2 separate regions of the Homo sapiens genome follow, and region 2 is linked to region 1. Evidence: fine-mapped expression QTL. A gene starts in region 1. The other region holds a variant in brackets. All regions are shown on one strand. Distances are from middle to middle.

The links. PIP is the estimated chance that this variant, and not a neighbour inherited with it, causes the effect.
Region 2: its variant is fine-mapped to the expression of TANK-AS1 in testis (GTEx, PIP 0.95).

What each region holds. Positions count from the first base shown.
Region 1 is chr2:161,152,414-161,168,114 of GRCh38, forward strand. TANK-AS1 (TANK antisense RNA 1) reads right to left here and starts at 7,877. Exons shown (of 3, transcript NR_187173.1): 1 at 7,719-7,877; 2 at 6,752-6,823. It overlaps TANK (TRAF family member associated NFKB activator), which reads left to right and starts at 8,015. Exons shown (of 8, transcript NM_001199135.3): 1 at 8,015-8,073. RefSeq lists enhancers at 7,725-8,488, 11,909-12,078, 14,300-14,349, 14,360-14,749, 14,660-14,829 and 1 more and a cis regulatory region at 14,745.
Region 2 is chr2:161,200,658-161,216,299 of GRCh38, forward strand. TANK (TRAF family member associated NFKB activator) reads left to right here. Exons shown (of 8, transcript NM_001199135.3): 3 at 2,830-2,938; 4 at 4,018-4,136. Among named protein-coding and RNA genes, the nearest start is that of LINC01806, 36 kb to the right of the region's middle. The variant C/G (reference allele first, on the strand shown) is at 4,397.

The DNA of each region.
Region 1 (15,701 bases):
ATAGAATTGTTGGTTTACACTTTTTTCTAGCACTTTATATATGTCATTCTACTATTTTCTGGCCTTCATAGTTTCAAAGCAAAATTGGCTGTTAATCTTATTGATGATCCCTTGCACATAATGTGTCACTTCTTTCTTGCTGCTTTCAATATTCTCTCTTTGTCCTCAGTTCAAAAATTGCCTCAAAAATTGAGAGTATCTGTACAATGAAATAATATATGAACAGGACCTGGCCTACAGAAGGAACTCAATAAATACTGGGTAATATAAATGATTCCTGTTATTTAGTGGGTGATTCTACATGCATTTGATTTTTAATTTAAATAATTAGCCATAATTATAACTTAAAATGTCTAAAAATTCACACTGAGAAGGTCTAGATATTGGACTTACTAGAAAAAGACTTTCAGTCAATTGTCTTAAATATGCCCAAAGAGCTAAAGGATAATTTGATTATAATGCCTCAGTGTGGATTTTTTTGAGTCTATTCTACTTAGAGTTCATTGAGCAACTTGAATAAGCTGGTTCAGACTTTTAGCAAATTGGGAAGTTTTCAGCCATTATTTCTTGAAATATTTTTTCTGCTTCATTTCTCTCATTTCTCCTTCAAGACTCCCACAATGCATAGAAGGTAAGCTTGATGTTAACTATCTTATCACATTCTCTGACTCTTTCTTCTGCTTGCTGAAATCTGCTATTGAACCCCTATAATTAATTTTCCATTTGTTATTGTGCCATTCAGCTCCAGAATTACTATTTGGTTCTGTTTTATAATTTATATCATGTTTTTATATTCTCCTTTTGTTCATAAATCATTTTCCTGATTTCTTTTAGTTCTTTGTCCATGGTTTTCTTTAGTTCTTCGGGCATATTTAAGGCAACTGATTGAAAGTCTTTTTCTATTAAGTCCAATATAGAGGCCTTCTCAGTATGAACTTTTAAAGACATTTTAAGTGATAATTATGACTTTTTATTTAAATTAAAAATCAGGCTGGGTGTGATCCCTATTCACACCTGTAATCCCAGCACTTTGGGAAGCAGAGGCAGATGGATCTCTTGAGCTCAGGAGTTTAATACCAGCCTGGGCAACATGGTGAAACCCTGTCTCTACAAAAAATACAAAAATTAGCCAGGCATGATGGTGCACGTCTGTAGTCCCAGCTACTCAGGAGCATAAGGTGGTAGAATCACATGAGCCCAGGAAGTCAAGGCTGCAATGAGCCAAGATCCTGCCCTGCACTCCAGCCTGGGTGACAACAGTGAGGCCCTGTCTCAAAAAAAAAAAAAAAAAAAAAAAATCAACTGCATGTAGAACCACCTACTAAGTTACAGGAATTTTCTATATTACCCAATATTTACTGCAGTCCTCCTGTAGGCCAGATCTTGTTCATACATTATTTTGTTGGACAAGTACACTCGACCTTTGACAGGAAAAGAAACTGAGGCACAGGATTAGTAAAGTCATATGATTAGTAAATGGCAATACCAACATATGAACGAGGCAACTTTAACACAGAACTCTCACTTACAATCATCATGCTTTAGCTTCTCTCAGCTGTAGTTTGCCTTCGTGGGGGCAATGATAACCTAGGACTCTGCCTAGTGAGTATAAGTTTCTCTAATATCAGTCATAATGGCCATCCTAAGCTTAAAAACATTCAAATATGTATCTTGAAATTTCAAGCATAATGCATGTCATAAAGAGGAAAGGACAGGGTAAAATAGGAGCCCACAGCTAAGCCCACAGTCTTAACCTAGAAAGGAAATCAAGTGTGGCCTAGCTTAGAATCAGATCATTCAGTAGAGGACTCAACAGACCAGGTAAAATATGAGGAAAACATGTTCTAGGCTGAGGAAAGCAGCAAATACCTGAAAAGGACAAAAGAGTGATCACTTAAGGTATTAAAAGAAGCCCAAAATCACCAGGAAGAAGCAGCAGGACATAAGTCTGGAGAGTTAGGAAGATGCCTTATTCCAGGATTAAGATTTTGGATTTTATTCTAAAGGTGAGGGGAAGACATTTAATAGTTGTAGGTGGTAAAGAAACATAACAACATAGAATCTGACAAGGGAGAAAGTGAGGCAAACAATTAGGAGGTTAGCATTGAAACTATGAGTTGATGGTGGCTTGAACAACGGGTAGGAATGGAGATAGATAGTAGCAATGGGGACATAGAGTGTAAGCATGCAAGAAATACTGCAGAGGAGTACTCACATGATGTACCTGATTGGGTGACTGATTGAATGTTGGGAATTAAGATATTTAAATCTTTATTATGTGGACAATGTTTTAATTTCTTTCTTCCTCTATTAACATAAAAATTAAGCATACACTTTTTTTTTTTTTTTGAGACAGAGTCTCACTCTGTTGCCCAGGCTGGAGTACAGTGGTGCCATCTCAGGTCACTGCAACCTCCGCCTCCCAGGTGCAAATGATTCTTGTGCCTCAGCTTCCTGAGTAGCTGGGATTACAGACGTGTACCACAACACCTGGCTAATTTTTGTACTTTTAGTAGAGATGAATTTTCTCCATGTTGGCCAGGCTGGTCTCGAACTCCTGGCCTCAAGTGATCTGCCTGCCTTGGCCTCTCAAAGTGATGGGATTACAGGTGTGAGCTACAATGTGCAGCCAAAAACAAGCGTACACTTTTAAATTCTACTTGTAGTTATTTATCTTCATATTAAAAAAACTAAAATGATACATCTTCAATTATTAGAATGAGATCCTGTAATTTTCTTATTTCTATATATAGATTAGAAAATGAGTAAAATAGCAGAACACATTTACTTCCTGCCACCTCTCTCCCACCCACTTGCATATTTGTTGCTGTAATCAGAAAGTTGTGACCATATTATTATTATTAAATTATTTATTAGGTAATAATTTATATCTTATGTGTCAAAAATTACATTTTTCCATTGCTTTGTAGTTGCAACATGTTTTTAATTTATGTTTAAATTATTTCAAATGTTTCCTAATATTTATTTTATATCAAAATTTCACCTTTCTTGAGTTTTTAATTTTGACTCCTTCTCGAATAAGGGAAGCATATCTTCAATTGTTTCAGAAAATGGGTGGTATGATGTTTGAACCTTGAGGTATCTGAGAATGTCTTTGTTTTCCTTTTCTTGAATAAATGATAACTTGAGTAGGCAGACACTATAGGTCAAATCTTTCCCAGGCAACTGTAGATGTTATTCTATTCAGCTTTTGAAGTTTACTGCTGAAGACAAGTTTTTCTTCCTTTGCAATTAATTTTTTTTCCACCTGGATTCTTGTCGAACTTTTTCCATAACTTAGATACCAGAAGCCTTCCTTCACCCTCTCAAGGCTGGATGATGGACTTTCCAATGTGTTTTCAGAGTACCATATATTACCCCTAATGTAAAAATCATAATACCACATTGTATAGTAATTGCCTGATTCTTGTATGTATGTCACCCAGTATAGACACCAAGTTCTTTAAAGGTAGGACAGTGTCTTAGTGATCTTTCTATCCCTAATTCTTAGCACATAGCAAATATTCCCAAAATATTCACTGATTAAATTAATGACTTGATAGGGCATTTAATATTGAAATTTTTAACAAGATAGGTCATTAATATATTTCAAAACACATTGAGTCCTTTTCATTTTTACAAAGTATTGTATTGGTTCAAAGTATTACTTCAGATAGCTTCTGATATATCTGTGGTTGCCGTCTCTGTTCTATTTACCCCAATTTCTTCTTCAGGAAGAAGTTGGGGCATAATCTTTCTACCATTTCCTTTAATGGTTGTCACCTATTTGTACTTTCCAGTCATATTTTGGAAGAGTTTTTCAAGCTTTTACTCTAATCATTGATTTATTATTCTGCAATACTGATTCCATCTTTGATTATGTCCAAATTATATGTGAATTTTGCCATTGCATGTTGTTCTGTGTCCTTACAGACTTAACTTATCCAACTTTGGTTTTATTTCACCTTGTCTCTAGTTCCCTCCTTATCTTAGTCTAATAGCTTATCATGTATTTCATCTCTTTTTGCATAGAAAATACAAAGCAGATTCTCTCCATATACTTCTGCTTCTGGTAAATAATTTTCCAAAGTATTCACTTTCTTTGTATTTTGAAGACTCTCTTTCAGACAGCATAATCTTTTCAAAGGGATGCTTTCTCTTGAATTACTCGTTCCAAGCCTTGTGTCAACCTTACTACCTGAATGTGTGGATTTTGGTTCTTGGCTCTTCTCATTATCTGTCTGATGCTATTAAGTTCTTCAGCATAGATGTTGAACTGGAAGACATATAGACATGCACAGTCAACAGCTAACTTTTTGGTTTGAAGCTGACATTTATCAACTTTGTCACTGCGGGTGTTGGGCTGAGGTGAGATTCCTTACCTTTAATAGCTAGTTATTTTACTATAAAGAGAAGAATTCCTGGTTAATCAGAAACAATGATTTGTCTTTTTCTTGATAAGAACCATATATGAAAAAGTAAACCCCCAGAGAAACAAACACCCAGTTCTGTCTGCCCAACCCCTTTCATTATTAGTTTCCTAAGCTTGGACACAGAGCATTACACCTATCCACTCCCTTTGGGTTATTGCTGGTATTCTCTAGGCCGTAGCTCCAAAATGGGTCATAGAGTGGAGAAACTAATGGGAGAGATTAGGGCAAAGAGGTGTAAAATACTTCTTAGCCATCACACATAGTAGTGGAATTACTAGTAGGGGCCGTGAGGCAGGTAGCTTCCTTACTATCCTTCCATACCAACACCTTTGATTGCCTTCCAACAAAAAAGTACATGTCCATTTCAGCTTCACAGTTCTTGCAATAAGTCCAGTATCCTATCAAATTCTGGAACTAGGGTGCTTGTCAACAGGGTTATAGCTGCTCTTATGGTACTTTTCTGTGAGTTAGAAAAAGCACCTCTCTGAGAAGACACAGGCTGAAGGAGGCAAGGCTTTGCAACTGAGCACAGCCTGCTCAACCATACACAGTGGCCCTGGTTGTCAGTCTGCCTTCCAAGGCCATTGTGAGTTCTCATGTTTTTCTGATTTTTCATAGCCATTTTAGTTGGAGAGTCTGCAATATAATCAGCCAGTCCAGATGTCATCGTAAATCAGAAGTCAACCAGATTCCATTAATAGTGATATTGCACATCAAAGATTTGACTGAGAACATAACTGACATTCCAAGTCATAGTAACTGTTTATATTGCCAGGTTTCCTTGTCCTTAGGTTTATATTCAGAAGTCTCAATAAATTATTAAGCAGTTTTAAAACTAGGATTCAAAATATTTTTGAGACAGAGTCTCTCTCTGTTGCCCAGGCTGGAGTGCAGTGGCGTGATCTTGGCTCACTGAAATTTCTGCCTTCCGGGTTCAAGTGATCCTCCTGCCTCAGCCTCCCATATAGCTGGGATTACAGGTGTGCACCACCAAACCTGGCTAATTTTTGTATTTTCAGCAGAAACGGGTTTTCACCATGTTGGCCAGGCTGGTCTCAAACTCCTGACCTCAAGTGATCAGCCCGCCTTGGCCTCCCGAAGTGCTGGGATTACAGGCGTGAGCCACTGCACCCGTCCAGGTTCCAAAATATCTTTTAAAGGCCTGCAATTCCCTCATTTTCTTTTAATAATAATTCATTAATTAATATTATTAAATAGAGACGTGGTCTCACTATGTTGCCCAGGCTGGTCTGAAACTCCTGTGCTCAAGTGATCCTCTGCCCTTGGCCTCCCAAAGTGTTAGGATTATATGTGTGAGCACCACACCTGGTCAGTTCCCCATTTTCATGCCACCATACCCAACCTCCAAAGCCACATCACTGCTCACTAACTTGAGGTATATAATAATATGAGTGAAGGAAAATTGGAATAAAATTATGTCATTATTTTAAAAGATTATTCCTCAAATAAATGTCAACTCAATTTCTAACCTTTGTAAAACATACTGTATGTGAATTCTTAAAAAATCATCATTATAGGAAAAGGAAAATGTTTGATGCCATTTTAGCATTGATTACAAAATAATTCTACCAGCATTTATGCATATTTCACATACAGGGGAATTATGCAGCCACTTCTCTTCAAGACTACAACATCATGGAAGTGGAAAGAGAAAAATACGCATTTAAGAAATGTGTATATCTAGCTATTTCCTTATTCAAAGTTTTTAGCACCTCCATATTTCAAAATGCCTATGCATTCAGCTTTAGACTCTGAGTATATTACTAAATTCCACTATTTCAATCAGAAATCTTCAAATCAGCTTATTTAATTTGCTCAAGCAGTGCTGAATAAACTGGACTTCATCAAAATTAAGAATTTCTGCTTTGCAATAGATATTGTCAAGAGAGTAAAAAGACAAGCCACAGACAAGGAGAAAATTTTTTGCAAAAGACATATCTGATAAAGGACTTATCAAAAATACAAAGAACACTTAAAACTCAACATTTGGAAAACAACCTGATTAAAAAATGGGCCAAAGGCCTTTACCTCCCCAAAGAAGTTAACCAGATGGTAAATAAATAGCCATATGAAAAGATCCTCCACGTCATATGTCATCAGGGAAATGCAAATTAAAACAACAATAAAATATGACACACATCTATTAGAATGGCCAAAATCCAGAACACTTACAACACCAAATGCTGGCAAGGATTTGGAGCAACAGGAACTCTTATTCATTCCTGGTGGGAATGCAAAATGGTAGCCACTTTGGAAGACAATTTGGCAATTGCTTACAAAACTAAACATTCTCTTACCTTATGATCCAGCAATCATACTACTTGGTATTTATCCAAAGGAGATGAAAACTTATGTCCGCACAAAAAAACCTGCACACAGATATTTATAACAGCTTTTTTTCATCACACTGGGGTGAGGGATGTTGATAATGGGGAAGGGCTATGCTTGTGTCGGGGCAGAAAGTATATGGAAAATCTCTGGACATTCCTTTCCATTTTGCTGTGAATCTAAAACTGCCCTCAAAAAAAGTTTAAATAATTTTTTTAAAGCAGTACTGTATTGTGATGTTTAACTCAATTACTTATTACAAGAAAACTATTCAACTGGTCAAAACGTTATATATAAGAAGTTTCTGTTTGTTAAAAACATTGTTTCAAATATATTTAGGCTTTGACTTTTAAAAGTATACAGCAACATTCAAGATAACTAGACAGAATGCACTGCAACTTGGCAGGTTTTTAAATCCTTGGACTTACTGGCCTAAGGAAAGATGTGTAAACATCCATGATTCAGAAATACAGGGAGAAATTGGGGCAGCCAGACCTCATCCTCTTGCCCTAAAGGGAAAAGATATCTTTCTTGCGGTATCTAAGATATGAATCTTAGATAATATTCATGCATGGCTAGGAATTGGAATAATGGGAAAGTCTTAATTCATGGGAAATTTTCTAATAAAGTTCCACCTCCATTTCCAGCCATTCCTCTTTAACAAATACATTTAGTGAAAAATACTACCAGTTGGGGAGAAACCAAATGGGTATGTGTATATGTAGTGTTTCTCAGAGTGTGGACTTTAACCACGTTTAATTACATAAATTTACGAGGATCTGTTGAAAATGCAGGTTCCTGGGCTTCACTCCAGTTGCTCTGAAATGAAAGCTGTAGGAGTCGGTTGGTGAAACTACATTTTGTTTCTCAGGTGATTCTTGTGTACTCTAACTCATATATAGGGTGATGTTATTTATTTACTGGTTATTTATTTACCGGTTATTTATCGTTTGGCAAAAAAATCCAGCAAAGACTCACAAGTGACCTTTACACTTGACATAGGATTCTCTTCCGCTGCTGACGCTTTTTTTTTCTAAGAGGCGGGGACTTGGCTGGGCAGGGCTGGGGGAGGGCGCTAGGCGGGGCGGGCAGGGGCGGGGCAGAAGAGCCCTGGGCTGGGTGGGGCAGGGCGGAAGGGCCCTGGCCTTGTTGGGTGGAGGTGAAGAGTTAATGGCTCCGCGCGCAGGCACTGCCCTCTGAACTGGAACAAAATGCAACTTCCGGTTGGAGTCACTCGGCCAGGCGCCGGCGACCTGAGGGGAGAGGGAACGCAGCTGAAAGCGTGAACTGTGTGAGTAAGAAACTTTGTGAATTGGTGTGTCCGAATCCGTCAAGCACGACGTCGGAGAATTTGTATGCGTGAGCGAGAGGGACGCGCTGACAGTAGGGGCGCCGCAGGGAGAGAAGCCGAGGAGCAGCGGAGACAACCAATTTGCAGTTTGGGGAGGGATTTTGTGCGGGAGAAACCACGCGAGTCCTTCCCCCGGAGCGGACTCCTTGTGGGTTGGTTTCCGGGCCCGCGATGTCAGCATAGCATCGTCGGCCTCTGCCCCAACGGCTTCAAGGGAGGGACTCGTCCCGGCTGCTTTGCCCGGGAAATGGGGGTGGAAGGGCCTGCGGTGTCGAGGTGAGCAGTGGACCCTCCAGGAACATTCCCGACTTCCCTTCGGGAGAGAGACTGCCTCCTAGAATCAAGTAGTATCGTGGTTACTCTTTCGAAAACTTAATTGGTTCTTTCTGTTGTTTTCCCAAGGTGGTTGCACAATTCCCCTCTGCCTTCCTGTGGGGTGTCATCATAGCCTGGTCAATGAGAAGTTGGGTAACTTCCCAGAGGGTCACGGAGGGAGTGGGTGGCCAAGGCAGGAAGAACAGAAGCCAACCCCGCCCACAGTGGGAACCCAGGCGTTAGGTAGAGTCCTCACGCCGGTGTAAACTGACTAGCAACGAGTTACAGGCAAAAAAGCTGTGCTTTTCTAGAAGTAGAAAGGGGGAGGATAATCAAAGAAGAGCTGTGCCTTTATTGTTATGCTATAACGAGCAAAAGTAAAGCAGCCTTGCTATGTAAAGTGGTGTTTATCTCACCTCACAGGAGATGCTTTTGACAAGTTATAATAAGGGAGAGATGGTAGTAAAGGAAGTGAAGAAGCGACGTGAAATTGAAGGAAAAGAAAATGACCTGCCTTCTTACCGCGGTTGGAATACACACCCAAACGAGAGGTAGCAGAGAAGCAAGCAGTGCATTCTGTTAAAAATTATTGTGTCCTCATTTGAGAGAGGAGGGATCCTCAAATAATACAACTATGTGCAAAGCAGGAAGTGAAATCCTTCTCAGTCCTCTCCCCAGTTGTAATCCAAGCCTTCCACATCTTTCCTGTATGTGCATAACCATGTTATTTTGCTTTCTTATGAAAATGAGATTATGCATACTGTTCGATAATCTGTTTCAGATTAAATATATATATATGGTGAAAGTCTTGCCATATGTAGCTCTATTTTATTGTAATGTTGGCGTGGTACTGCATTGTGTAGATGTACCAAATTATAGTTAACTGTCACTTACTATGTCCTGTCCGTATATATTGCCCAGTATTCTTCAAAATTATCTGTTTCTCATTAGACTACAGATTTCATTAATCCTTTGTGAAATATATGGCAAATATTTTCAAGAATTATCAATGCTTTGGTTTAAAATGCCCAGGCTTTTTATCTCAGGTAAGAAGGTAGTCCCCACTCAAAAATTCTTAAAATCTTCTCCTATATTGCCTGTTAATTCTCTTTTTATGATTTACTCATTAAAACATCTGAAAATGATTTTTGTATGCTAAGATAAGGATTTAATTTTTTTCTTTGTTTTTATGACTAGGCAGCCATTTTTTCCTGAAATCATTTGTTGAAATCATTTCTCTCCCAACTGACTAGAAATACCTCCTTAATATAGTAAATTCTCAAGTGTACATGCATCTTTTCTTTAGACTCATCTGTTGCTTTGATCTTTTTGTCTCTTCCTTTAAAAATACCAATCTGCTTTGATATTACGTTTTCTAGTAATTCATAGGACAAGTCCCTCTTCATTTTTCCTTTTCAAAATTTTCTTGAATATAATTGCATTATCTTTGAGATAAAATTTAACATAAACTGTTCATGCTTCATTAAAATACTCTTTTTGGGATTTAACCATTATATTTTCTTATATTTTGTGACTGGTATGTAGATGAGTGTTTATGTATCTGGCCAACTTTCTAAATTTATTAATTTTAATAAATTGTTTCACTTGAATTTTCTAGGAAAACAATCATCTAATTATAATTCATCTTATCTCTTTCTTTCTTTGCTTTAGTGAATTGCTGGCTTCCCCAGAATAGTGGTAAATAAAACAGTGATTCTGGCCATCCTTTATCTTGTTTCTTAGTTTGGGGATGTTTTTATTATGTCATCATTAAATATGAAGTTACTATTAATATCTAATAAATTATATTTATCAGGGAAGTTTCCTTTAATATTTCTAGCTCATTGTGATTTTTGCAGAGAACTGTTTGGATTGCATCCAAAGTCATTTTTGCAACTGGGGATGGGGAGTGTCTATTGTATTAGATAGCACTTTGAGAACAATTTTAAATAATAGATATTGGATGTTCATTTGGTGTGTATATTCATTACTTCTTAACATTTTTATCAGGAATGGAAGTTGGATTTTGTCAAATGGCTTTTTGACATCTATCATAACCTTTCATAGGTACTTTTCATCTTTGACCTAACAGGATAGTGAATTACTTTAGTATATTTGCAGTTTGTGAACCAATCTTACGCTTGGTCATGGTGTAATATTTAAGTATATATTGGTTCCTTTGGTAGCATTTTTATTTAAAATCAATGATTGAGATTCATTTTATACTCACCTTTTTCTGTTATTTTTGCTAGGTTTTGGTATCAAGGTTATGCTGGTTCCTAAAAAGAACTGGGCAGAGTTCCTCTTCCTCCGCTCTGATGTAGTTTAAATAGCCTAAGAACTCTGCTCTTTGAAGATCTGAAAGAATTCACTCATGAAACCATGTGGGTCTGGGAGTTCATTGTTCTTAAGACAGCAACAATACTCAGCAAAATGGTTCAGAACAAACAAAAACTCCTTGGAGTAAATACAATTGAATGAAAGAGTCTGGGACACGGTAATGTCAAGAACTAAGAACAGCTGCTGTACTGATGCTGGTTATTTCCCCCCTACACACAACTTTTTTTTCATGGACAAGGAAAAATGCTGTAGGTAGGCTGAGGCTGTTAAGTAAAATGTCTTGCTATTCTTTCTCTTCTCTTCTTCAGTTATGTTACAGAAGCAAGGGTATTGCTTCTACATGGGCAAATTTGTCTATGCCCTGAAAGAAACCAAGAGTGAAACTCAACTGGGAAAGCATCAGTTTCACTTTATTGTCACTAGCTTCCCAATTTTGCCGGGAAATTTCTTAATTTAAAGGTAATAACCAAGCTGACATTTTACTGTAGCCAAATCCTACAGAGGGTTTCAAAATGAGTGGGTGAAAAAATATACAAGCTTAACATGCTTATACTTATTTAACATGAAGTGAAAATCATTAGCATAGTTCAGGTATGTGCATGGTATGTGCACGCACATGGGGCAGTGCTGTCATCTAACAGAAGCCCACCTTTTTACTTGACTAATGGTTTACTGTTAATACCTCGATAATAGTGTAATCTTTGATAGACTTTTATAAATGATTATTTCAAATGCTTTTTGATCACCTTCAAGAATATGACCTGAGACAGGTAATGTAATTTAGCAGTTTGCATCTATGAACTGTGGAGGATACCTACAGACACTGAAGCGTTACTAACAGTAGGATGCAGGCATTATGTGAATGCGTGGGTATTTTATTTCCATTTATGGGCTACTATAGCAAAAATAATTGGGGAGTTGCCCTATGATGAAAGAAGACTGCATGTTTTTTAAAACCATACCTTTGTCCAAAAGCAAATGGTAAATAAAAATAGACTGTTGACATAAAGCTTCGCTATTTCGATGCTATGCATTAGCTGATTGACTGTTACTGTTTATCCTTTTTGTTTTCTAACACCTTATAAGCATAAAATATTACTGTTTAATTGCAGTTCGTTTGTGTTCAGTTACGTAAAGCCTAGTTTTAGTTTCTATTTCCTGTAGGATTTATGCTGTGGCTGCCATTTCCCACCTGTTATCTCCTATGCTTGCTGCCATGGTTTTGAATCATAAATACAGGGAAAGAGGAGGCTATTATTTAGATATGTAACAAAAATCGCTTTATAGTTCGGAACCAAGATTATGATTATCTTCAGGAAGGGATAACAGAATATGAAATGAACTACCTTTTCAGTGAGTTGTTAATTAATTTTCAAAGTCTTTTGAACTAAGTGCAGTATTTGGTCACTGTTCAAATAAGTTGAGGGTAACTGGTACCAAGCCCTATGCAACTGAAAACAGGCTTTGGGACTTATGTAGTACATGTGTCACATTTTCCAATTCCTAATCTATAAAAGCTTTTTAAATTGTGGTAAAATTCACATAACATAAAATTTACCATCTTAACCTTTTTTTAAAGTATATGGTTCAATAATGTTAAGTGCATTCACATTGCTATGCAACCAAGAAAAACATTTTTAAAGGGACGTATTTTTCTTAAGGAAAAGAGTTTGGGAAGTAAATGATGGCAATTGTTTGTCTCATGGAAAATTTCCTGGACAGTAACTTTTTACCTTCAGAGATATATTCTCTATAAATGGTAATTATCAGTAGTAAGTTATGAGAGTAAACATTTTGAGTACTAGTGATCTATAATAGCTTTTACTTAACACCAATACTTTTTTTTTTTTTTTTTTTTTGCAAAAGGAAGGGTCTACTGAAAATAGGTTGCTAACATTGACAACAAAGTATTTTAAGTCATTGCAGTAAGGAATTACTGGAAATTGAGTAGACAAAGAAAATTAATATGAGTTCCATTTTGATGGTTACTTAGCAAGTTGAACTTATGAGAGTCTTTGAAATAGTTGCAGTATGAGAATTGTTCTATTGAACAGCGAAACAACCCAATCAGGTAATAGTTTTTCCAGAGAGTGACTTGCTATAAGGGACAGAAGTTAGAGACTTAGATTCTTTCAAAATAAAGGATTTTTTTTAATTGCTTGAAGAAGGATTTTTGGAATCAGCAAATCAACTGTTATTGTGAGAGATTTAAGTGGTTTTACTATTCACAACCATTTATTATGTGGCATTTACTGGAATGTGGTTTCATAACCTCAAGTATTTGGAATCCCAAAAGTAGAAATGCCTTTCCCTTGAGATTGTTGTTTCTCAACCTTTAAAAATCCATATTTCCTTTCTGATAAACATTAAAATCTCACAAATCCTAGAGGATTGTAATACATGTTCCTTCCCATACAGTCCTACTCCTCCTCTACACCTCACCATACTGACTACAGACTTTCTCTTCTAGTTCCCTCATCTGTGAATATTATGCAAAGTCCTTCTTTATATGATTTATGTAATAGATTTTTAATATTAACTATTTCAAAATTGTATATCCTTCCTCCCCCATCTTCAGATTCTAACATTGCCCCTAGTCAGAGGAGAGGATACCCCTTAAAGATTACTCAGTTCAGCACAGCCAACTGAGCAGTGCCATGTTTACGTTCACCTCAGAGGAGTAGAACATCACATGCCTGCTTTCCCTTTTGGTGTTATACTGTTTAGTTGTGCACTTAAACCCATAACATTTGATAAATAGTCTCAGAGAAAGAAGTATTACTGGAGAAAAAAAGGAAGTAAGGCAAAACTGAGACTCATGGGTGTGGTCTTTGACAGTGAAATCTTTTAGCTCTTGCAAGATCACATAGAAAATTTCACCAAGTTCTAACATCCAGCAAAATGGAGAACATGTACTGGGGACCTTTGGGTTTAACCAGTGAGACTGTCTTGTTTATCCTGTTGCATTTAGCCTTCCAGCTTATGGAAAAATACAAAATTCAAATTCTAACACTGCTGGATTTATGATATTTAAGGTTTCTATTATATCAGCTGCCTGGATGGAGCACAGAAACAGCGTAGTACAATATGCTATGGGTATATTCATGACCAAAGTTTACAATGTGGAAGGAGAATAGAAATGCAAGAGGTCAGTTGGGGAATTAGCTGCTTGTGTTATATAACTCCTTAAAAGTGGAAAATGATCACAAGTAAATGTGAGTAGTGACAGTTCTCTTCCATTTCCTTTCTTCAGGTAAGGAAAACACACTTAATATTTTTGAGTGTCTTTAAAGATCTTCCTAACCATCCAAAAGAGAAGATGTCTTATTTATGTGTATATGTCGTGTTGTTGACTGATTTTTTTGCTTTTTACTCCTGATGTGTTTTGTGGGTGAGAAGGCAAGCATGTAACTAAGATACAGAAAAGACCAAGATGTAGTGGGGCACAGTGGCTTGACGCCTATAATCTCAACTACTCAGAAGGCTGAGGTGGAAGGATTGCTTGAGGCGAGGAGTCCAGGCTGCAGTGGGCTATGATTGCACCGCCACACTTGCTGCACTCTACCCTTGGGGGACAGAGTGAAGCTCTGTCTCAAAAAAAAAACAAAAAACAAAACAAAAACACAGAATTTGTCTTTCATTCACTGATTCACCTCTTTATGTACTACAGTGGCAACTTTTCTGAAATAGAATATGAACTCCTCTTATTCATAGCCCAAGGGGTTGGGAAAGGCTGGTGGCTTTCTTTTCTAGGGCAAAGTGGAAGGAGTAGCAGTTATTCAAGGTGGTTTCCTTTCCCCATCCTGAAACTGCTTTAGATTTGAGTTGGTCTCTCACCACAAGTGTGAACTCTGGCAGAACATTTACCCAGAAACAGAATAGGCTCAGCAGTTGGGGAAACCCAGCAGAGGGGCCTTGCCTGCCTCCCAAATTACTCACACTTGTCTCAACCACCTACAAAAAAGTAGACCTTACTAAAGAATGACTAATCATCCTGGGGTCAAGATGGCGAAAATCCTACCTTTAAGCCTTTGATTCTCTTCAAACGTGGAATTCCAATGTATATATACATAACTGATCAAAGCTCAGATGTTCTGGTTGAACAGGCAGTTAGAGGTGGAACATGATTTGGCTCATACACTGTCAGCCTCAGTGCAGCTCCAGAGGCACCACTACTTACCCTTGATTACTACTTTCTTTATCCAGGATTGGTTGGCTGTCATTTGGCAGGATAATGGCTGCCAAAGACAACAGACTTAAGATATTGTATCTATTGTCAACCTAAAGAAATGGAGGCAAAATTAATATGGGGAATTTATTTGGGTAAAGGTTGACGACAGCTGCCTTGGACACACTTCCAGGTTGCCTTGGGGGGTTGCTCCATTCGGCCTTTGTTGCAACCAGGTTTTTGTTTGTTTGTTTGTTTGTTTTTGTTTTTTGAGATGGAGTCTCTCTCTGTCACCCAGGCTGGAGTGCAGTGGCGCGATCTTGTCTCACTGCAAGCTCCGCTTCCTGGGTTCACTCCATTCTTCTGCCTCAGCCTCCCAAGTAGCTGGGACTACAAATGCCCGCCACCACGACCGGCTAATTTTTTTGTATTTTTTAGTAGAGACAGGGTTTCACCGTGTTAGCCAGGATGGTCTCGATCTCCTGACCTTGTGATACGCTCGCCTCGGCCTCCCAGAGTGCTGGGATTACAAGTGTGAGCCACCGTGCCTGGCCGCAACCAGGTTTTTAAAGGCAAAAGAGAGCAAAGAATGGGCTGATACTAAGTTATTTGATAGGAATTCTCACTGGTTTACAGAAATAACATTGATTAGTGATTATACATTGTTGAACTATAGGGCATGAGTTTTGGTATCTAACGTATGGCATTTTATGGCTACTTGGCATCACATAGTAGGTAGCTTCAA
Region 2 (15,642 bases), 48 kb after region 1:
AAACTTAGTTTCCCTTTGTCGTATTTACCTACTGACCTTGTTTCTGTTTTTAGTGTTTCTAGAGAAATATAAGCAAAAGCATTCCTCCATTCCTTCAGATCATTTCTGAAAGCATATCTGTTCCTCTGATATTTCTTTTTTTTTTTTTAAGTGAAAGCAAGTTTATTAAGAAAGTAAAGGAATAAAAGAATGGCTACTCCAGAGGCAGAGCAGCAGCATGGGTTGCTCAACTCTGATATTTCTTTAACAAGTTAATTAGTTTGTTTATTCAACTAATATTTACTGAGCATCCTAATATGTGCCAGGCACTCTGTAATACTCTGGAGATATCAGGAGGAAATACTCTCTACCCTTGAGGAGTTCAGTCTAGAGGGAAATCAGACATTAGACAATTAGACTAGAATATTATAACTGCTAAATACAAGTATGTGAAAAGTGTAGGAGGAAAACATGGACTCTTGCTGTTCTGTTTCCCTTACTATACTTCCAGAGTGTTGGTTTTTAAAATTATTGTAGACTTTGCTCGACCTTTATAATACTTTATTAAGTAGCTTAAGAAGTAGTTAAAACTTCAATTTGAAATAGCCATTGATCCATTAATTTTTCTTAGCTATTGAATACATTTTCAGGATTATTTATTTATTGTAATATCTTATATGCAGATGTGCTAAAGTATGTTTTTTAAGCCAGAGAATAGAAGATAAAAATTAACTGGCAGAAGCTTTCTGAGTTGGTTTCAAAAGAAAATATATGGTTTCTTCATTAAGGTGGGAAAAAAAGACATAGAGACTTAAATAACATAGGCATTTATTCTGCGCCTGTCTCTAACTTGCTAAGTTTTTTGGACTGGTTACTTAATCTCTGGACAGTATAATGTATATACCTATCAAAATAAAGTGAAAAAAATAGGTACTTATTGATTGATGTTTGTGAAGAACTTTGAGTTCTTGGAGAAAGCTTTAATTAGCGCAGAAATATATAGAGAAGACTGTAACTTGTTTGCTGATTCTTCAGCCCTGGTGGTGCTCTGTAGCCCAAGTAAATCTAAGGTATTTAGAATTTGCTGTAGATTTTTGGATCCTTCATTCAGTCAGCTTACCACACTGTTTCTAGGGGGTTGGGTGTGAATTTATACAGGAATAAGATGTCTTATCCTGGGAAGCCAGGCCCTAGACTAGACTTGGGTATCAGTGATCAGTTCTGAGACGTATTCATTGGACATGCACTTCAGGTAGACCTACATGATTCATTCTTCTGTTCACAATAATAAAATGTAATTGGAATCCGTATTTCCTTTTTTAATTTTTCAGTGAACATATACTGAACATCTCCTATGTATAAGTTACTTAATCCATATGAATTCTGTGGGGAATGTGAAACTATGTAAGACTGCCTTTAGGCAATGTGCAAAGACAATGTACCACATGGGTTGCTTATCAGCTTTGTCAGTTATTCATATTTGGAGTGTATTACTTATAAAAGTTCACCTTTCATTTGGGAAAATGTAGTATTTAGCTCTAATTTCTTTTTTTTTTTTTTTTTTTTTTTTTGAGACAGAGTCTGGATCTGTTGCCCAGGCTGGAGTGCAGTGGTGTGATCTTGGCTCACTGCAAGCTCCGCCTCCCGGGTTCACATCATTCTCCTGCCTCAGCCTCCCAAGTAGCTGGGACTACAGGTGCCTGCCACCACGCCTGGCTAATTTTTTGTATTTTTAGTGGAGATGGGGTTTCACTGTGTTAACCAGGATGGTCTCAATCTCCTGACCTCGTGATCCACCTACCTCAGCCTCCCAAGCTTTAATTTCTTAAGCTAATTTATATTTGCTAATCTATGAACAGCTATGTAATTTATTAAAATTTTTAAGTTTATTGGTCTCTGAAAATAATAGAGCTTCACTAATTTTGAACTTTAAGAATCAGTTTAAAGTGAAATATCTAGTATCTACTGAAGATCATTCTGAGATTATTAGAACTTCATTTTCATTTTATATTTCAAGGAATTTGCAACTTAGTCATTATTTATTTATCCCTCCAGGGATAGAAATTGGTTAAAAAAAGAGTTCTCTGCTATTGTTTGGTGATACGCTTTTAAGACTGTACTAATTTGGTAATTGTGATACAACAGTTTCAAATTTGCTTGAATGTTTGCAGCATCTGTATTCCTCAGTACAAACTTGTGTCTTTTTTCATTGCTTTATTCTCACAGTCACTGCAATAACATAGCAAAATTAATGGATTAACAATATAAGGGAAACTGGCATTTAAGACACCAAAGGTCAACTATATTCTCTTAATTTCTTAAAACTTAGTGGAGAAGTTTCTGGTCAGTATAATTTTATAATTTGCATTTGTCCCTTTGATTTGTATCAACACTTCCTTAGTGTTTGTGTACTCTAAAAATAAATTTAGAAGTGTGTTTATTTGAAAGACACAAAATCTTAATTTTTTAAGTTAGTATGTATTTTTAAAGAATCACTTTAATATAGCATCTGTTGTATCATTTGTGCTTTTTTTTTTCCATTAAGGAATAAATGCTAAATTACAGTTTTGATCCTTACTGAAGGATCAGGAAATCATAGATTGAATCCTTGACTGAAATGTCTTTAAATAAGTTAATCTTTAAAACTTCTGCGGTGCTTTAAGTGTCTTGAATCACTGATGTTTGTAACAATTACAAGTACATTCCTGGAGCCAGTTTGTATCTCATAAATCACAATACCTGCAAAATGACAATGTGGGCAACTCATATCTATTTATATTATCAATGGATGGTAAATATATGTTCATGTCTATCAGTGAATATCAGGCTAACTGGTTTTTATGTCAGCAGACTGAGAACTATGAGCAGAGAATACGTGAACAACAGGAACAGCTGTCACTTCAACAGACTATTATTGACAAGCTAAAATCTCAGTTACTTCTTGTGAATTCCACTCAAGGTATGTTCATGTTAATTTTTTATGTATTTCTAGAACCTCTTGGTGAAAAGAAAGGTGTAAGTTGAGTTTTTCTATTTTATTCCTTCGTTGTTTCTCAATAGTTTTGATATTATAACTGTGGTACAGTTATATGTTATGTTTATTTAAATGAACACTTGCAGGATATGGGAAAGTGGACTTTCACATATACTATACTATATGGTAGAACTCTAAGTTTATAAAACTTCCTAAAAAGCAATTTGCCAGTAAATAGCAGCAAAAGCTTTTGAAAACATCTATGCCTTTTGAACCAAAAACTCAAGTCCTAAGACTATATCATAAGAAAATATTTGTTCAGGTACTCAAAAATATATATGCGAGGATGTGTATCACAGTATAATGTCTAATCATGGAAAGCTAGAAACAAATATTCAGTAGTTACACTGATCTATATGAATAGCTATGTAGCCAAGAAAAGTGATGATAATAGGTATTAACTTGTAAGAATATGTGGACGATATATAGCAAAATGAACAAAGCAGGATACATAAATAAGTGTTTTTTTCATTTATGCAGAAAAAGGTGATTCTTGTGTGAAGTTATATGTATAGGAAAAGAAGAATTCTGATAGAATATATAAACCAAAATATTAACTGGAATAATTCACAGGTGATAAAAATTTGGGTAGCATTTACTTTTTATTCTTTTTGGCTGTCTGCATTTTCTAATTTTCCCATAATAAGCATGGAGTCATAATACAAATAATTATCTTAAATAAGAAACGCATACCTGAAAATGTGAATATAAAAGTTGAATTGTTGCTGACAGATGCAAAGAGCATATTTCTAGTTTTCTAAATTCTGCATATTTTACATACTGCTGGCTTTTGGAGAGCAGGGGTTTTGTGTGTTTGTTTAGTGGGAAGGAAAAAATATAAATGGACAACTTGTCAAAGTAACTATTACCTAAAGAATTTTCTAAAACTCCTACCTTAAAATGTATTCTCTTTATGGTTTTGAGTTTGTATTATTTTTTGCTTTTTCAGGTGGTACCAAAAATAAGGGTTTTCTGCTAATGTCCAAGAGGTTTTTGTCTTGCAGATAACAATTATGGCTGTGTTCCTCTGCTTGAAGACAGTGAAACAAGAAAGAATAATTTGACTCTTGATCAGCCACAAGATAAAGTGATTTCAGGAATAGCAAGAGAAAAACTACCAAAGGTAGACATTGCTTCTGCAGAAAGCAGCATTTAAATGCTGATGCGTGACATAGCTTCCTCATTTTATTTTTCTGAAGTGATCTGCTGGAATTCCAAACAGAAGTTCCATATATACAAATATGTGGCTTAAATATTTCTAAATAGAAGAACTATTTTCAAGTAAAATAAAGGCTGAGGTTTTGTATTTCCTACTGACCGTTTTTCTACATCACAAGCATTTCAACAAAGAAAACATTTAACAAAGAAATAGGGCTGGACACA[C/G]TGACTCACTCCTGTAATTCAAACACTTTGGGAGGCCAAGGAGGGAGGATCACTTGAGCTCAGCAGTTTGAGACCAGCCTGGGCAACATAGGGGGATCCCTATCTCTATAAAAAATGAAAAAATTAGCCACGCAGAATGGCACACGCCTGCAGTCCCAGTTACTCAGTAGGAGGATTGTTTGGGCCTAAGAAGTCAAGGCTGCTGCAGTGACCCATGATCATGACACTGCATTCCAGTTTGGGTAACAGAGTGAGACCCTATCTCTAAATAAATAAATAAATGAATTAATGAATGAATGCCACATACATATGTACATATATGTGTGTGTGTGGTGTGTGTGTGTATATATATAAACAATGAAATAAAAGATTAAAATCAGGTAAATAATAAGACACAGATTAGATAATAGCTTTCTAGCTTTTTCTTCAATAGTCTGTGCTTAGTTTAAAAGAAAAATACACCCAACTAGCTTAAGCAAGACTCTATTGAAGTAATACAGAAAGAAATAGTACATATCTGCAAGGAGACATATACAAGGACGTTCATGCCATGGGTTAGAAACAACCTAAATATCCACCAATAATAGAATAGTCCATCTTTAGAAACTCTTTAGAAAAATTAAAATATACTAAATATATATTAATTTGCCTAAATTTCAATAGCAATGTTGAGTAAAGATGGAAATTACAAAATGATAAAATGGGAATACTTTATGTAGTTTGTTGTTGTTGTTGGTTTTGTTTTGTTTTGTTTTTGGATTTTTTTTGGAAATGAAGTCTTGCTCTGTCACCCAGGCTGGAGTGCAGTGGTGCAATCTCTGCTCACTGCAACCTCCACCTCCTGGGTTCAAGCAATTCTACAGGCGCATGCTGCCATGCGTGGCTAATTAGGATACTTTATGTAGTTTTTAAAACATAACATTAATGTTTGTGAAAACACAAATATGTAATAAAAGTATAAAAACCTGTACAGGAAGGGCACACATCTTCTTTAGAAAAACGATCACCTCTAGAATTGGGGAGAAAAGAGACTGTGATATCTGAAAAAGGAATAATGAGGGCTTCAGCAGTTATATCTGCAACTTTTTTTTTTAATAGAAGAGAGCCAAGCAAGTATGCAAAATGTTAACACTTGTTAACTCAGTAGTATATGTATGTATATTATATTGTTCTCCATGTTTTCATAAGTCATTGAAATTTTATAAGTTTGAAAAGGATATTTTTAATGAGATGAGTTGGCTTTTAGTGGGACGATACATATTTTGAATAAAATACGAACTCCTAGCAAATAAGGTTTCTTAACATCAACAAGAACAATTAAATCAAGAGTGCTATATTTATTTCTTTCCTTCTAAATAAAGTAGGAGATTTTCACTTTGTTAGGGTTATTCAGTTACTGATTGCATAACTAAGACTATCTTACTATTTAACATCAAATCTGAGAAATCCAATTTTGAGAGCTTTTTTCTATAAATAAAAATTTTAGAATAAGAAGTTCTCTTGGTACCCCTTAGTACATATATTTTTATTTTAAACCATTCTTTGAGTCATTCAGTTTTCTTCACCCCCATTCGAATTTTCATTTATCTAAAAATGCTGATAAACACAGAAACCATGGCAATGAAATATACTAGGTTTATTTTGCAAAAGAGGAAATTGAGAAACAATGATTCTGACTTTTTGGAATGCAATTTTTTTACTAGGCCTATTGTAGTACATTATAAAATTGTTGAATTACTATACTGACATAAATTTAGTGCTTAAATAAACAATATTTCTAATCTTCCTCTTTCAATGTCTTCCAAATGCCATTACTTAACTGCAAATTTAATAATAATTTATAGCATTCCTTTGAAAGTAATAGAATATCTCCAGTTTAAAGTATGTAGAAGGTAGTTTTGAAAATAAAACCTTGGTTAGAACAAAAGGGATGATGTGAAAAGTTCTAAGATATAGTAATAGTTTTGTTTTTTTTAATTTGGATAATTTGTTATTTATGCAAGTTTTAGAGTTTATTTTCAGTCAATAAGTATCAAAAGCAGACCTTCAATGGAAATCTTTTTAAAAATTATATTTGTTTAAATTCTGTAAGCTAAGTATTTTATCTGTGAAATATATATTTGGATACCTGGGATGAAATTAAGTTTAAGTAACAGAAATCATTTCAGAGATAGCCTGTGTGCAAAGAGTGAATAATATTACATCAATTATAACTATATTTTTGGGCAGACGGTAAGAGGAAAAGCTCCAAGTAAGGAATAAACCTAACTTCAGCGAGTTCTCTTAATTATCTTTACTAATAGGGGAAAGGTTTATGTTTTAGCCACATTTTTATACTTTGAATAGTTCATCAACTCAATTTTCTTTGTAACCATTTAATAAAAATAAAAATTAACTGTCTTGCAGTTCAGCTTTCTCTTTTTTTATGTATCTCTAGCCAAAGTGCTAATGAGCACTAAACGTATAAGGGATTAAAGAAAAGAGAAAATATATTGTAAAAGAATGGATAAATTAGATTTATTGAATATTTGAGAGTTGGCTGTGTGCTTAGTGTAAAAAATTAGGCCTATGTTAGAAAAAATACTGGCCCATCAAGCAATGGAAATTAAAATATGTTCCATTGGCCTATGTGTTGATCTATACTTAGTGAGTTATAATTCACCTTTAGCTAATACAGGTGAAACCTTTCCTAAAGAACTCTGAATATATGGTTATATTCAAGCTTCTTCCACAATGAAAAAAATCCATGTCTGTTGCAGTTTTTTAAAAGTATGCACCCACATGGATGAGAACTGGAAGGCATTATAGAGAAATGGTTAAGGTGATGGTATGATTCTTTTTTATTCTATTTTTAATATACTTTAATGGTCTTCTGCAAAACTAACCTATTTCTAGAAATCACATTCCCAATCAATTGGCCTAGCTTCTATAATGAATTAGTAAGTTAATAGAAATGCTTTGAACCAGTAACAGAAGGAAGCCACTACGAGCCACCCACAGTGCTTTCCTCCTTCTGTTTGGTGGGTGGTTTGAGGATTTGTTTTCTTTAGACAATTTGTTTTGTTTAGGATTTTGTTTTGTCAGGATGTTTGAGAAGGGAAAGACTTGTGGACATTTTGGCAAATAGCCACTCTGGCTGCCTTGGAAAAAAGAGACACAAAGTAGAGGCAAGAGGGATATTTGAAGGGGAAAGAGGCCCTTTTAGAAAATTTTACTTAAGAAACATGAAATTTATAGTTCAGTCTCTATTCATGTTATTCCTACACAAAAAGAATGCAAAAATCCTTTGACTTCTAAAGGGACAGAAAGAGGTAAAGACAAAGCCTCTATCATTAGATGACCCTTAGTACTCTGCTTGAGACAGTAGGGAAGGAAATACTCAGTTTAATGGAAAACCTTAGTTTTGTCTTTTGTACACCACAGTAATTTGCACAGTCCTTTGCATTATCTATCATATTATTCCAGACTTACCCCAAAACTTAGGGCTTAGAACGACAAATTTACCTGAGTTTCTATGGGTCAGAAATTCACCCAGTGACTTACCTGGGTGGCCCTGACTCAGGGTCTCTTATGTTGAAGTCAGGATGTGGACAAGGACTGCAGTCATCCGAAGGCTTAACTGGTTGGAGGATCCACTTCCAAGATGAGTCACTCACATGACTGTTGGCAGGAGGCCTTTCCATATGAGCCTCTCTGCACAAACTGATAGCTAACTTCACTCAAAGTAAGGGATCTGAGAGAGAGAAAGGTGCCCTCTGTGACGTAGTCTCAAAGTCACATTCCTTCACTTCCACTTAATTTTGTTCATTAGAAGCAAGTCACTAAGTAGTGGGGCAAGAAATTAAGCTGCACCCCTTGAAGGGAAAAGTATCTAAGTTTCATAGATATATTTTAAAAGCAACACAGGTATTGTAGATTGTGGTGTACAGAAGAGGATGTGAAAGATCAAGAGACAAGGGGGCTGATACTTAATTTACCTTATGACAAATATTGATGAAACGTAAGGGAACTTAATATTCACTTAATAGTGAATTAAATTCCTGAATTATGTGATTATTAATCCTAAAGGGAAAAAATATCATAGCCTGTCATCTGAAGAACAATTTCAAAAATTCTAATATGAATATACTTTCCAGAGGAGAATAATAGCAATGCTTAGAGAACTAAGAAATTGTTGCATATTACTAATTCTTTTTTATAATGTTAAAAACTGAAAATGCAGATAGGAAATCAGATAACAAAAATGCACACAATTATTCTTGACAAAGACTATTCATCTCTTGTTTACAGAACACCATTTTCAGACATAGTAACTTATGTCCATGTTAGCAGTTACTATTTAAATAACAAGTTTTGTATTTGTGTAACAAATATAAAGACATTCTATAAAAATACAAAACTATAAATTGTCAGTTTAATTCACTTTTTTAAAAACCAGGATTGTAATGTACTGTGTCACTTATATAATCTCAGAAATGAGATTTTTATAATTTGCTTCTGGGAAATAGTTTGGTTGCCAAACTAAATACTATCTTGAGTGTCTAGGTTTTGACAGAAATTGTTTGCCCTCATCTTTCTATGCTACTTTTTGTTCCTGTGGAGAATTATACAAAATTCTCCGGTGGTTTGATGCAAGAAAATATGTAGAAAGCAATAATATAGAAGACAAAAAATTTGGTGATATTGGTAAATTATTTTTCTTCATTTATCCAGTAATTCTGAATTCATGATGTATACTTAACACTGCCAACCACTGGAGAGCAAAGAGATGTTGTCCCTGTCTTCTGGCTTAAAGTCTTGATTTAATAATTAACATTATTGAATGTTGAAAAGTTATTTCAGATTCTAGGATCCAAAATATGAAGTGAACATGGTATGAGTTCACTAATTAAATAGAGTTTATGTGTTCTCATGTCTATATATTTCTAATTTGTTCTTTAAACATGTCTTTATTTTTCATCTGAGTTAATCAAAAACTCAAGTAAATGACGAGTGCAGTTACTGAAAGATGTCAGTTAAACAGTTTGCAGATTTCGAATATAGCTATCATTGTGATTAGATCAGCAGATATGGTGGCTTTGAGGAACAAGAAAGATTTTTTAGGTTTAGAATAGTATAAACAGTGATATAGCTGTGGAGCTGGCAATTGCAAGCAGTAAGATGTGCTGTACCTGACAACTTCAAGTAAATATAGAAGCTCTGACATATTTGAAGAAAGCTGTTGTCTAAAAAGTCATTTGTCAATCACTTACACAAGAAGTAGTTATTGAACTCCTATTTGCCAAGCCTTGCTAGTCATTAACAGAAATACAAAAAACAAAACACAGCAATAGCAATAGTATTGTAATAGACAACATCTATCCCCTTTAAGGATATAGTCTGGTTGGGGAAATGACAATATGGAGACCTACAGCAATTAGCAAGCATTATAAAATAATGTAAAGTCCTAATTATATAACAAAATGAAACCCCGTCTCTACTAAAAATACAAAAATTAGCCGGGCGTGGTGGCAGGCACCTGTAATCCCAGCCACTTGAGAGGCTGAAGCAGGAGAATTGCTTGAACCCGGGAGGCGGAGGTTGCAGTGAGCTGAGATCACGCCACTGCACTCCAGCCTAGGTGACAAGAGTGAAACTCCGTCTAAAAAAAAAAAAAAAAAAGAAATTCTAACTATAATTTTATGGCACAGATAAAACATTTAGGACCTTAATTTAAAAATTAAAATTCTCAGTGAGCTTAAGATAGGCTTGATCAAGGGCCCAAAGTTTAAGTTCAAATACAGAAAAGAAGACAAGTTCTTACTTGCCTTTATCTTGGTTATGTGTGCATAGATAAGTAAAGTTAAATTTTCTACAAGACTTTGATGGAAAAAGGATAATTTCTAGACAAGAGCCAGAATTATTCTAGGTCACTTGGGAGAGAATATTATGTATGTAAACTGAAAGCTAAAACTGAGGGTTTTGAATGAGCCATTTCATTTACCATAACCATTTTTAGTTGACATAATCATGGCTTCAGAGGAGAAAGTGCTTTCTACCTTTTTCTTAACTTTATTCTATAGACAGTCCTTCAGTGAGCGGCATTTACGCATGGTCTGCTTCTTCAATTATGTATAGCAGTTTTGGCAGGCAGTACATGAACTTGAACTCTGTTTTGCTTTCTGATCTTCTGTAGCTAATAAAATCCTAATCTCACAGGTCTAGGTCTTAGATGGCATTCCCATCCTTACACTGTTCATATCTTATATACACTGGACTTCAAGTGCAGTGCCCACTTAGGGATCTTCGTCTGAGTTTTGGGCCCCTGTAGCTTCTCTCAACACTCCAGACACTTTCTGTTGCAAGTCCCTTAATCCACATTTGTTTGTTAAGTTGCTGTATGTTGTCCAGGTACCTGGTTTTATATTCATTGTAAAAGCTTTAAAATGGTTTATAGGTAAATGATAAATATGTTTTTCATCATTTGAACAAAAGCTAAAAATTAGGCCGTTAGTCAACATATTTAGCTACTAAGTGATTTCTATGGAAAAGCCAAATCTCATTTACATCATCTAAACACATAGCACCTCTTCTAAAAGAGGAACTTGAAATAAATGTAATTGCATGTGTTTGTTACTCAACTTTTTAAAAATTTGCCCCTGAATTCCTTTAATGTTTAATCTTTTCTATCTTTTATCATACAGAAATGGTGATTATGCACACTGTACAATGGCACAGGCCAATGTAGGCTGGGGCTTAGAGAACTGGAGAAAAACGTGTTTGTGTGTAGTACCTCAGGTACTCCTTGCCTTGCAGTCCAAAGCAAATGTACCGCTTCTCCTGGTTTTCTTTCTAGAAACTGCATTATATATACCCTATTTTTATATATAATGCTTCTGTATTACTCCTCTGGAGACTAGCCTTTTTTATAGACTTTCTGGTAGAATGTTAATTAGAAAGGAAAATAACTATCTTCAACCAATTTATTCATTAAAAGTTCAGTTTTTTCCAAAGAGTCATAATACATAAACTTTTTTTTTTTTTTTGAGACAGGGTCTCATTCTGTCACCCATACTGGGGTGCAGTGACACCATCTCGGCTCACTGCAACCTCCACCTCCCAGGCTCAAGTGAATCTCCTGCCTCAGCCTCCCGAATAGCTGGGATTACATGCACACACCACCACACCTGGCTAATTTTTGTATTTTTAGTAGAGACGGGGTTTCACTATGTTGGCCAGGCTAGTCTCAAATGCCTGACCTGAAATGATCCACCTGCCTCGGCCTCCCATAGTGCTAGGATTACAGGTGTGTGCCACTGTGCCTGGCTGATACACAAACTCTTAAGAAAACAAATATTGATATCCAAAACATTTTAATAATTACATTGAAATTTTCTATTGCAGAAACTGTGTTTCCAATCTAAATTATTAATTAATCCTAACCCTTTCCTGCTCTGGGTTTGTGTTTTTGAATTCAGTACATCATCTTACAGTTTTTGCTTTTGTTAAAATACTGGAAATAATTTTGAGGAAGAAAAGAAAATAAGAAGTGATATGTCACCTTCTAAATTGTCTTTCCTAACTTAGAAGCAAATTCGAATGTCTCTAGTATGGCTTTTCTCTCCTTATTTCCCCTATCATCCCTTTTCTCACACTTCTCTTTATTTAAAACTTGTCTTCAAAGCACACAGAATAGAGTCGATAAGAGTCTATCCAGCCCTGATTTCTCTTGGCCAAGGAATGAAAGGCTGTTCTCTAAACCTTGATAGGTAAGGAATAGCCCCCTGTCCACCTCCATCTTAGTCTGTATTGCTGTAAAGGAATACCTGAGGCTGGGGATTTATAAAGAAAAAAGGTTTATTTGGCTCATGATTTTGATATCTGTAAAAGTTCAAGATTGGACATTGACATCTGGCAAGGGCCACAGGCTGCTTCCACTCATGGCCGAAGGCAAAGAGGAGCCAGCATTGCAAAGATCCCATGATGAGAGAGGAAGCAAGAGAGAGAGGGGAGGTGGCAGACTCTTTTTAACAACCAGTTTTCTCAGGGGCTAAAAGAGTAAGAACTCACTCACCTGCCATCCTTACCCCCACAGCCCCCAGGATTTCTCTATTCATGAGGGATCTGCCCCCATGACCCAGACCCCTCCCATTAGGCCCCACCTCCAACATTGGGGATCAAATTTTAAAATCAGAGTTGGAGGCGACAAGTATCCAAACTATAGCACCCACAAACCATCTAGTTTATCTTATTATTATAACCTGTCATCCTAAAAGTTCTCAAAATCTGGCTGGGCGCAGTGGCTCACGCCTGTAATCTCAACATTTTGGGAGGCCAAGGTGGGTGGATCACTTGAGGTCAGGAGTTTGAGACCAACCTGGCCAACGTGATGAAACCCTGTCTCTACTAAGAATACAAAAATTAGCCAGGCATGATGGTGGGTGCTTGTAATCCCAGCTACTCTGGAGGCTGAGGCAGGAGAATCGCTTGAACCTAGGAGATGGAGGTTGCATGAGCCAAGATCACACCACTGCACTCCAGCCTGGGCAAGCGTGAGACTTTGTCTCAAAAAAAAAAAAAAAAGAAAATTTCTCTAAATCTGTTTTGAAGGTTTTTTTTTTTTTCAGTGTTATGAAATGCTTCTACATTCAACCTGCTGTTATTTTTTTTTTTTTTGGTTGAATTGTATGATGAAAATTCAGCCTCAAATAGATATTGTATTTGAAAAGGGGAAGAGTATTTTAATAGCTTTTTTAGCGATTGTGGATAGTCTTTGATACTGCACTAAAACTTGGTAGTGTCTTAAAATGTTAGCTGCAATATGGAATCTGAAAGCGTATCAATGAACTTTTCTGCTACATTAAAAGCTGTTGGTCTATCTTGTACTTTGAGTATGTCTTTTACTAATGTATGATTCTGTAACATCATGAATCAATCATTTGGAAAATATTGGTTCACTAAGTTATGTAGATCTTGCAAATGTTGACCTATTATATAATATTTTTAAATCACATTTAACATCATCACTGATTGCATCAGAAAAATCTTTCAAGTATTGGGCATCTGTCAAGCTTACTGTGACAGGTACAGGTCTTCCAAAATTTTAATTTTCACTTGAAAGCTCAAATTTTATCATTGGCAACAAATCTTGTCTGTTGCTTTCCTTAACATGACAGGCTAACTTCATTTGCTTTTGAGAAAATGTCTGAATAACCATAGCTTGTGTGTCAGTCATTCTTTCAAGCAAAAATGGCATTCCATTAGAAAAGTAACCAGTTTACTTGCAACTCAAATAGTTGCACAAGTACTTTTCCCCAAGACAATAATTGTACTTCAGTATGCAGCAGAAGTCCTTTTGTGTATACTTCCCATTTTGTCACACAAAATATTAAAAATATGTTGAGATCAAGTTTCAATAAAAGTAATCACTTTTACTGCCTTATTAAGGACATTCTTAGTTGAAACTGCCTTTTTTTGCTGGTTTTTTTTTTTTAACTGAGTGTGTGACATTAAAGAATACAGTGACAACAGTTTGATATGGCCTTAGTCATACTCGGGCACCAGCAGTTTTATTCATTGTTTTTGCATCATCAGTCTAAATGCCAACACAGTAAAAAATGCAAATATTAATAATATCTTAATTGTGACAATAGTTGATTTCAATTATGTCAGGCTCTGGGATTTCATTTTATTCTACTTACAAGCTAATAAGTTAGTTACTGTTTCATGGGTGGGTACTGGAGGAAAACAGAAAAGTGAATCAGAGAAAAAGGACTTTATTATTTACAGTAAAGTTAGTAGCGAAGAACATCTTATTTTCATTGGTCCTGCCTAGGAGGTAACACAGACACAGATGATGCTTATACATGCAATGGTTACATTAAAGGAGAGGCATATTGAGCTTGGGGAACCCACCATTTTATAGCAGGCAGTAAGCATGCCTGCTCTTTGTCCAAGAGGGAGACATTACCTAGTCTTTCAAATTTGCTCTGCAAACACAAGCCTAAGAAAAGGCTCCGGTAAAGAACAGTGAGATTCTTGTATTCCTGACATGAACAGCAAAAATGTGCCAGGATGCTCAGGGGCCATGGCAGATTACCTCTCCCAACAGTGGATCCCTTGAAAGGCTCTTGGGACCTTTAAGGATCCTGGACCATATTTTGAGAACCACTGGTTTAACCAGATTATAATTTCCTGTTAGAAAAAAATCATATTGCCTTTTTCTTAGTAAGTTACTTTTCATCCTCCTGAAAAAATGTCATGTTCTAAGAATATTCCAGCATCTCCTCAGGAACCTTTATTTGTACATGGAGGTCCTAATGCTTCCTCATCAGTTCTTTTCACATACATTGGATAATCAATTGTCTTATATCTTCATACTTTAAATCGTGATGCTTGTAAATTAATCTATATTAAGTCTAGAGCAGACTCTGAATTTTGACTCTAATTTGTTAAAAGATAGTTTGATAGTAGATACCTGCATTTTCTAGTATGTTCCATAAAACCCTAGGACTATGAAGTGCTGCATACTAGGTACTCTGTTTTTTTAATTTTTAAAGGCGCAAGACTGTATCTGGGATCTGAAATCAATACTAAGAAAACCACTTAGCTTTGTTTAAGTACAGGATCTTCAGCTAACACTCTTCCCAGTATTGTATTTTAACATCCTCTAACTGGATTCTTAGTTCCTTCTAAGATACTGCTAGATTTTGAGGGTAGAGGAGGGGGAAGAGTCACCTAATTTTTCATTTGCACCTATACACTCTGAGCTTCTCTGCTGCTTGGTTAAGCAGTGTCTTGCTATGTTACGAAAGCTGATTTATTTCCTGAAAGATTTTTTTTCTTTGCCAGTTAGTCATCTTTCTATATACTTATGCTCTAAGCTATATATCTTAGAATCCTAATAAAACTATTGTATAGCAGTTTCCACACATTCTGCATTGTCATTAACCTGTGGTTTTTGTCTCCCTCCCTGATAAGTCCCTTTTGGAAACAAATAATTCTAAGACGAGCATCTTTTATTGTCTCTTTCCTGTTATGTTTGTCAATAGTAGTGTGATTTTTGCATTTAAGCTTAGTTTCCTCTAAGTAATTCCATATTTAATGGATTTACTCATTGTTATTTCTGCTCCTAATTTCTCTTGACTATTTAACATTAAAGACAGCATGTTTCCCTCTACATTTTATCTTAATAATATTATAGGGAGCCACTGACTTGTCTGTATTCTCTAGAAGTTACATCTGGACCGTATGTCTGCTAGACGGCC